Homo sapiens: one gene and its partner. The main gene of each other region encodes a partner of the protein of the gene in region 2 in a complex. Each region holds a gene or a part of one and is shown on either strand. Other genes may lie near its edges.

The links.
Region 1: the proteins of MLF1 (region 2) and YWHAE are in contact, whole or in part, in a crystal structure (PDB 3UBW), measured with the Homo sapiens proteins. Residues at the interface, in NP_071888.1 of Homo sapiens: Arg31, Ser32, Phe33, Ser34, Glu35, Pro36, Phe37; in NP_006752.1 of Homo sapiens: Lys50, Asn51, Arg57, Arg61, Lys123, Arg130, Tyr131, Glu134, Pro168, Gly172, Leu175, Asn176, Val179, Tyr182, Glu183, Leu219, Ile220, Leu223, Asp226, Asn227, Leu230, Trp231.

The regions. Positions count from the first base shown.
Region 1 is NC_000017.11:1,343,775-1,348,460, forward strand, and holds the end of YWHAE (14-3-3 protein epsilon), read right to left. Parts: intron 1,726-4,686; coding exon 1,673-1,725; 3' UTR 501-1,672; downstream 1-500. UniProt on the Homo sapiens protein: Adapter protein implicated in the regulation of a large spectrum of both general and specialized signaling pathways. Binds to a large number of partners, usually by recognition of a phosphoserine or phosphothreonine motif.
Region 2 is NC_000003.12:158,602,058-158,607,070, reverse strand, and holds the end of MLF1 (myeloid leukemia factor 1), read right to left. Parts: intron 4,265-5,013; coding exon 4,132-4,264; intron 1,975-4,131; coding exon 1,869-1,974; 3' UTR 1,123-1,868; coding exon of another isoform or gene 1,101-1,122; 3' UTR 615-1,100; downstream 1-614. UniProt on the Homo sapiens protein: Involved in lineage commitment of primary hemopoietic progenitors by restricting erythroid formation and enhancing myeloid formation.

The sequences.
Region 1 (4,686 bases), on a different chromosome or scaffold from region 2:
AAGACAAGTGTGACGAGGAAGGATTTATCAACTGAAAAATGTTTACTGACACAGGGAATCTAGAAATGTACCTTCCAGATACATACAAATATTTAAGCAAAAACTGTTCCAAGGGTATTTCCTGCAGCACCTGCCCAAAAGGAGCAAACTGGTCTTAACAAAATCAGGTGTACATCAATGTTACGCAGTCAGAATGAGACACATCTGAATGCCTAACATAAAAAGATCTACAGTAACTAGGTATCTATACACATTGATGTATAAACTGTTTATGGAAAGAAGCTTCTTATACAGTGTTTCTGGAAAGGGAGACTGCTATCCTGCTGTCTATAATGTGTGTATGGATTACTAAGAAAGGATTGAGTAATTCTCCACTACTGCCACTAGCCTCTGGAGGAAGAGGGCACACAGTTTTTACCTCTAAGAATTATTATAAGACATTCAGCCTTATTTGGTTGTATGAAATACTATGCTAGAAAATGATCCATAATTACACCTTGTACTACTCATGTTGTACTTTAATGATTAAAATAAATACCATGTTGCTGCCTGGTCTGGAGGACAAGACACACCATCAACTGACTCAGTGTTCTTCACAACCAGACTACAGGCAATTTTTTTCCAAAACATACATCTTTGGGAAGCAAACAAATTATTTATGGAAGAAAAAAGGAGGAATGTTTCACATTCAGGCAAACATAATACTGTCAGTGTGTTTGGACTAGAGATTTTATTTTAGAAGTATAAAGGATGGAGGCGCGATATTTGGCATTTTTAATTTAGGTTTGTTTTATTTAAGTTTAATGTTAATTCCATGCTGTGTTTCAGTAAGAACAATACAGATTCTGTATCTGTGGCTCCAGTCAGATATCCAGTAGTACAAATTAGCTTCAAGTTACACATACTGAACAAAAGAGGTTGAGCGAGCGAAGGAGGGGAGGAGTGAGGGGAAGGAGGTAGGGGGAGGGGGAAGGAGAAGAAACAAAAGAATTGAACAGGCATGCAGGCTTTTCCATACCACCTTCAACGCTAACCTGCTTCAGTGGGAGAGTAAAGTAGGCAAGAATGAGCAGCCACGGATTGTTGAACTGTTACCAGCACCATGCTTTTCAGCAACATTTCAGCGGAGTTGGAAACATTTTTTACAGCAAAACCATTACAACGAAGTCCCTCCCCAAACCACCTTTAACCATCTCAAGCTAACACCCAATTACTTGCAAACACTGGTATAAAACACAGTTTAAACAATTAGAAAAATGAAAACTGATACCACTTATGCCTCTATAGTGTGATTAACCTCTCTCTTAGATGCTTGCATCACCTATAAGTCTAATGGCTTTCAAATGTAATTTCCATTTGCTAATGGTGATCTTGCCACATCTGGCACGGAGACGACACAGTAATGCTGAAAAAGCCTCTATGTAGTCCTGTTAGTGTCTTAAAGAACCTAAAAGCTGGGACCAGTAAAATCCACAGAAATTCACTCTTGCCTTTAAGAACTTTTGAAAACTGTTTAAAAAAAAAAAAAAAAAACCAACAGGGCAGGAACCTAAATTCTGAGACCAAATGTAAAAGTCAGATTTGGTGGTTCTCAGTGACAATGGGGAGTTTCCAAAGGGTGGGATGGGGAGGAGGGGGTGGTCAGAGATGGTTTCTCTTGTTGGCTTATGTCTCACTGATTTTCGTCTTCCACGTCCTGCAGCGCTTCTTTATTCTGCTCTTCACCTGTTAAAAAAGAAAAAAAGTCAATTATTTCGTATTGACTACATTAGGCTATGGCAGCCACAAACAAAGGTGTCATTCCAAGCATAAAGACTCTTCTACTTGCTACAATTGGTATTAAACGCAGGCAAAGGACTTCTATCATCCTTGACACCTGAGATGCCTAAGCCAAGAAGGGATTATGGTCCTGAAAGTATTTATTGGTCAACAGAATGAAAAAAACTGATGCGCAGTACAACTCAATGTTTTTACGCTAAATAAGCTCTTGACGTAGACAGCCAAGGAAACCATCTTACTAAAATGACATTCAAGCTTTCACATAAATCTTGGGTCAAAATACTCTTTCTCAATAACCTCACCTCTTCAAGAATCAAGAGTATTTTGCAAACTTTTTGCAAAATCTAATTTACCCACAAGCTAATTATCAGAAATGCTTCAAAATAGTTAACTGAGCAATAAACTGTTGCCAAGAAGTTCTATCGTATTTTATTGTGGGGTTCTGCTGTTATAAATATTTCAGCTTTTGTATCTTGGCCAGATACACCAAACTATAATCAGATTTTACTTCAGAGTGAAACACAGCATGCTCAAAGTAAATCAGACCACTGAGGTTATTAAAGAATGGCATTTGGACCACTTCACTCATGCTATTTGTCTTTTGCCTTTAAAGAGGGTGATTACCCTAAGGAGTTTCAACTGCACTATGACATGCAACAGAAAGCCACCTATTGGTTGGAGGGTCATCTACCTATTAGTATGCATTAAACAAGTCAGCCAAAATAAAGAAGCATGCAGGCTTTTCCCTTAAAAATGATGTAACAGGTAAAAGTTACATTCACTTGTACTTTTTTAAAAAAACCACTTACAATTACTACACAGTTAACTAGTTTGAAACAAAATAAATGAAAAATCAACCCAAGAATCATAAATGTTCAAATGACTATCCATTCATAATGCTTGTTAAATTATTTAATTAGGATGGACAAATAACACCAAACTAGCTGCCTACACACATGAAGCATTTACACTGAGTACAGCTTTGAAACAGCCTAAATGATCTCAAAATGACAAATGTCACAGCATCAAGGTTTCAGTAGTTTTCAAATCTCTTCTGCGGCGGAAACGCTTGACATTGCTGTGTGACTTCAAAACCCACTTACAGCCTCAGCAACACAGTGAAGCCCTGTCTCTACAAAAAATGAACATAACGCCGGGCACGGTGGCTCACGCCTGTAATCCCAGCACTTTGGGAAGCAAAGGCGGGCGGATCACGAGGTCAGAAGATCAAGACCATCCTGGCTAACACAGTAAATCCCCATCTCTACTGAAAAAATAATACAAAAAATTAGCCTGGCGTGGTGGCACATGCCTGTAATCCCAGCTACCTGGGAAGCTGAGGCATGAGAATTGCTTGAACCCAGGAGACGGAGGTTGCAGCGAGCCAAGAACATGCCACTACACTCCAGCCTGGGTAACAGAGTGAGACTCCGTCTCAAAAAAAAAAAAAAAAGAATAAATAAAACTAAAAGTAAAAAACTATGTATGCTGGAGCCAGGCATGGTGGCTCACGCCTGTAATACCAGCACTTTGGGAGGCCAAGAGAGGTGGATCATGAGGTCAGGAGATCGAGACCATCCTGGCTAACACAGTGAAACCCTGTCTCTACTAAAAATACAAAAAAAAAAAAAAAAAATTAGCCAGGCATGGTGGCAGGCGCCTGTAGTCCCAGCTACTCGGGAGGCAGGAGAATGGCGTGAACCCAGGAGGCGGAGCTTTCAGTGAGCCAAGATTCTGCCGCTGCACTCCAGCCTGGGCGACAATCGAGACTCCGTCTCAAAAAAAAAAAAAACTACATACGCTGGGCATGGGGCCACATGTCTATAGTCCCAGCTACTTGGGGGGCTGAGGTGGGGGAGTTCTATTTCTGCAGTGAGCTTTGAACGCCACTGCACTCCAGGCGGGGCAACAAGAGCAAAACTCCGTCTCAAAAAAATGTATAAAATTTTAAAACTACTTAAAATACATGAAGATCTTTAATTCATAAGACAGAAAAAAAATATGCAAAGGCAAAAAAAAATTGCTTAGGGATGAAAGAACTGATGGGCACCCAACTGTTCTCCAAAGGACAATAACGTATTCAAACGTAGGAAACATGATAGGAACATTCACTCTAACAGCAAATCACTGCCAAAGTATCATTAACACAAACACTAGAACACAACTCGCTTGTAAGCAACCATGAGATGTGCCAGAAGTTCCAAGTAACTTTGGCATAAAAATGTCACTGTCATATACATCACATCCAACCACAGTAGGCAGGAGGAGCAGGCCGGAAAAGGCTTAGGTCAGCGCCCTGGAAGGTGGAACAGGCAGAGTCTGTAAGCAACAGGACGATCATACGCAGGCATGATTAGTGAAGAACCAAAACTGAAAGCGGAATTCACTGTGCCATGAACGTGACTTACAAAGTAGAGTTTTTAGGAAAGGAAGAGTTGGGTTTTCCTTTAGGAATCTATATTGCAAGGAAAAAGGGAGGGAGAACAATCATATGAAAGCAACATTACAAGAAAAATAAACCAACAGAGCAGGACAAAGGAAAACAATGATACAGGAGCCGGACTTTGGTCTTACTTCGTGTAAACTTCACTCTAAGCAACAATCTGTCTACTCCTCCTCCCTTCTACTCTGAGAAGGAAGTAATATCCTCTTGAAAGACATACAGATATTAGGGGAAAAAGGATTCCTTGGCTATGTTTCTTTGCCCAGTGTATCTACATTTTGGAGAGAGGGGAACAGGCAGGGAGAACATGTATTTCCTACCTATGGATTCGTATATGAAACAATCCTCTTACCACAGGGTGAAGAGACTAAAATCACTTGAGAAAAAGCAATGATCCCTCCCTTTAAAGAAATTATGTTCCAACATGCTGGGACAGACATTAACATATTCTAAAATTAAAAGAC
Region 2 (5,013 bases):
TTAGTAGAGACAGGGTTTTGCCATGTTGGTCAGGCTGGTCTTGAAGTGACCTCAAGCAATCCACTTGCCGCAGCCTCCCAAAGTGCTGGGATTACAGGCATGAGCCACTGCGCCCGGCATGTATATAGTTTTAAATAGTTTCAATTTACAGACTAACAGTATTAAACACCCATCATAAGAAGTTGTTGCAAACAAATATTATTCTGGGGTATAGATATCGATAGTTATGTTTTTATGGTGCAAAGATAGAGTTGACTTTTAAGAAAGAAACAGAACTTTTCTCGGTACTACCATCTCAAATTCTGCCTCACCACAATCTCTAACTGCAATCTGATGTACAGGAATTATACTGTTAAACACAATTATTTATTAAAGGGTGTTTTTAGATTTGACTACAATGATTCAAGTTATCATCAGTGTAATGATTTAGGCAAAAGGAAAATCAAGTATGTACTTTATTAAGACTTTGCTCTATCAGGTTAATTTATATCAAGATGTTATTTAAAATGTGTGCCTTATGACAATTTCCCAATGTGTTATGGTATGTTAGGAGTATACTAAAGTATGCCTAAAAGGAAATTTTTAACTAATACATGCTCAATTTCAACAATGAATTAACACATTTGCATTTTATTTTAATGACTAAAGGCATAAAACACAAACTAGTAAAATTAACAAAAATATTATATAAAAAATTAGAGAAGTATGAACATAGTCATATAATTTTACTTACAAAATTGAAAAGAAAAATACTTAGGATTATAGAGTGATAGCAATTTTTGGGGGCTTTTTTCCTTGACAGAAATATTAAACAACAAATGTGAGTTAAGATTTTATATTCTTATAAACTTCAAACCTAACTTTTATAAGAACAGACTGATGCTTAAATTCTAGAATTAAAAAGCTAAAGCTGATTTTTAATGGTATAATTAAAACAGAAACAACTGAATTATTAAGACGTTGCTCAAAAACACCCATCAGCTGTCTAACAGATTTTGAGACAATGTATCATTCTGGTTTGGAGAATACCAAATGCATTTTTCTAAATGTCACAAAAAAGCTGAGCAGAGTTTCTCCAAGGACTCTCCAGCTTCAGAATGTTAACCTTGGAGACAGATGAAGCTGTTTGTGGGAAAGGAGAGTAGAAATATGCCACATTAAGAAGTTAAAGAGAATGGTCAATATAATATCTGGTGAATATTAAGAATGTAATATAGAAAAGATACATTCTATAAATAAATTATAACCAAAACAATCATGTACATTAGCAATTTAAAATATTTTTCTCTGAAAATGAACTATTTGATTATCCTTGCCCTTTATCAAAATAGTAACTATTTTCTCATAAAAGAGTACTAGTGTAGTTTTGCTTTATTATTTTTAAAGTTTTAAGCTAGTTGGCTTTACAACACATTATAAAATTAGAGATAAATTATTTAAACCTTTATTAATATCACCCTAGTACAGTGTTAGTAAAAACTGAGACTTTTTTAACATTATAATTTCTTATAACTAATTATAAGTGATAGAACTGCTCTGCAATCAATCTTGATAAATATAAAAGAATATTTAGCCAACACAAAAACAACTGGGGAAGCGAAATAAGCATATAAGCTTTAAAAAATTAGTATGTTTTAAAGAGTTTTACATTAAATAGACTCAATTTACTCACATTGTTGAAAATCAAAATTTTATTCCTAAAAGAGGGACAATATAAAGCTAGGACCTTCATGAACATTCAGATATCAGAAGAAAGTTGCCAAGGACAGAACTGATTTAACAGCAAGAGATTGGTCTTATGCTTATTACCCAGCACCATTACTAACTGTTAAAACAATCAAAACTAAACAAATCAAATGCATGGCTATTTATTTTTTGTTGCTTTTCACAGATGAGCCTTTGATGTGGAGTTTGTCCCCCAAAACATTTGATCTCCTTCCATGTTCAATGGCTGGACTTTGTTGAGGTTTCTCCCTGAGAAATATACATGTGAATATTAATATCATTTAAAAAATGGCCAATGGTTTATAAATCAATACAAACATGTTAAAAACCACTGTAATATAAGAAAAGTTTTATCTTAAAAATTCCTTAATGGCTTTGAAAAACAAGGCTGGCCAGGTGCGGTGGCTCATGCCTGTAATCCCGGCACTTTGGGAGGCTGAGGCAGGCAGATCACAAGTTAAGAGATCGAGACCATCCTGGCCAACATGATGAAACCCCATCTCTACTAAAAATACAAAGATTAGCTGGGCGTGGTGATGCGCGCCTGTAGTCCCAGCTACTCAGGAGGCTGAAGCAGGAGGATTGCCTGAACCTGGGAGGTGGAGGTTGCAGTGAGTTGAGATCGCGCCACTGCACTCCAGCCTGGCGACAGAGCCAGACTCTGTACCCCCTGCCCTAAAACAAAAAATAAAAAACAAAAAAAACCAGAAAATAAGGCAGACTATTTCAGTGAATTTAAGACAGCAACAGCTGTTTTCCTGTTAGATTTAACTGTTTATAGTTTAAACACTGTTTAATGTTAACAGTATGGTAGTCACTAACCACATTTATATTTGAATTAAAATAAAATAATTCAGTTCTTCAGTTGTACCAGCAATGCTTCAAATGTGAATCAACAGCCACATGTGGCTAGTGATTACTACACTGGACAGAATAGATATATAGCATTTTTGTCATTACCGAAGTCATTTCAGAAAATGCCATTGGACAGTGCCGGTTAAGAGAAAATGCCACTGTTAGGGCCAGAAATTTATAGGTCATCCATAAAGAGCATGCCTTCTCTAAGTGCGACCTGGATTTCCTATTCAAACTTGGCACTGCCAGGTTTTTAATCAATACATTTTTCAAATGAGACAAATATCTATAATGAATATGGGAGCAAGTTTTCAAGCAATTCAATAGAAAATACTAGGGCTCTAAATTCCTAAACAAGTATTTTAGAAGAAAAGATCCTAGCATATGAAATTCTGCATAAGGCTTCTGATTTACTTGATACTCACTTGTCCACTGCTAGTTCTGTGAAGGCTTCCACCTTCTGTAGCAATTTTCCACTTTCTTATAGCTTAGAACAGATTTCTATTTAAGGTCTGGTGAGGCCTTTGAGTGTAACTTCATAGGAATTAGATATTATTATCCATTTATTCCTCTGAGAACCACATTAAACTGTAGCTCCAGAGTATGTACAAAATGTATTTAAAAACTCTATAATATTTATTTATTTATTTTTGAGATGGAGTCTTGCTCTGTCACTCAGGCTGTAGTGCAGTGGTGTGATTTTGGCTCACCACAACCTCTGCCTCCCAGGTTCAAGCAATTCTCCTGCCTTAGCCTCCCAAGTAGCTGGGATTACAGGGTGTGTGCTACCACACCTAGCTAATTTTTGTATTTTTAGTAGAGACGGGGTTTCACCATGTTGGCCAGGCTGGTATCGAACTCCTGACCGCAACTGATCCACCTGCCTCGGCCTCCGGAAGTGCTGGGATTACAGGTATGAGCCACCATGTCCAGACAGAAATCTCTATAATCTTTAATATGTGGTTTCAGCAAATTTATTTTTCTCAGCTATTCTAAAAGGGAATTCTAAAAGAAGCTAATGTTCTTGCAAAATTCTTCCAAAATATCTAATACACATCGAATATGGTATTGCATGTACTGTTACATATTATACAAGTGTCTGAAATTTACTATTAAATGCTAAATTTTGATTTGTTAAGAAAGTTGTTAAGTCTTCCAAATAGAGCCCCTCTCCCCTTATCATATCTCTAGATATCTTTACCAGTGTGAAATGTATGACTCTATCTATATCCATATTACAATGTGTTTTACAAGAATAACTACACTACAGGATATCAGTTTTCCTTAAGAGGATTTTGGTCTCTGTCTTCTGAGGCATAGTTTACTAGTGAATTACTAACCATAAAATCCTAAACTATTATTGATTTTTAGATATAAATTTAAATTTGTGTGGAATAATCAGCTTTCATATAAAATTATTACATCTTTCACAAAAGATACTGTGGATACAATTTGGATGATCATCAAAACTTTCTGATAACAGAAGTAAATTACATAACTTTACTTCAAATTCTTCTTAAAAAACCAAACTATTTTAGAAACAACTTTTACCTTCTTTTAAGTTCTCGGGAGCCAGGATTCTCATGGCCAACACTTCTCATTCTAGTGTTTCCTAGATTGTGTCGTCCTGGTTTGTACTTCAAAACCTCACTTTGCCACTCCTCATCAAAAGCATGAGCATCACCTATGTCAAACAGAAAAATAATGGGAATAAGTATTAAGGTATCAACTGTCAGTAACTGCCTTGCTCCCACATATTTCAGTCTAGTCTGGTGTTTTCATTAGTGTAACCTCAATACAGAGGCAGGAAGCTGCTTCAAATATAAGGGTCTTTGACAAAAGTAGTATTTGTTTTCCTGTCTGTTCCTCTCCTATTCCTACTGATGATCTAGTTATTGATGATCTATTTTTTCAACTGCCTGGATAACATATTATTCTACCCAATGGACCAGCTGACCTAATTATATTAACTAACAGTTTTTCTTCCTGGGTCATCTCACAGTGAATATACTCTTCCTGTATAGTGTATACTTCTGTGGCTAGCACTTCTATTCACCTAACCATCTTTCTGTGTAACTTGACCTCACAAGTTTCTGTTGTCAATTTCCTAAGACAGGTTACTCAGCTAGAATGTCAATTCATGTTGTTATGAAGTAATCTAACTTCCATAATAGCAACAATAGAGACATGATAGTACTTCTTAAGACTGCTTTAAAATATTATGTTCCTTCACTCAATTTTTCATCAAAATGTTGATTATTGTGAAATACTCAGTATATATATAAATGTGATAAAATTACAGAGGTTACAAATAAACACAGGTCACAATATCATGGCTTCTATCTTACTGCATAAGAATAATTTTATCAAACCCCAGCCAGGTGTGGTGGCTCACGCCTGTAATCCCGGCACTTTGGGAGGCTGAGGTGGGCG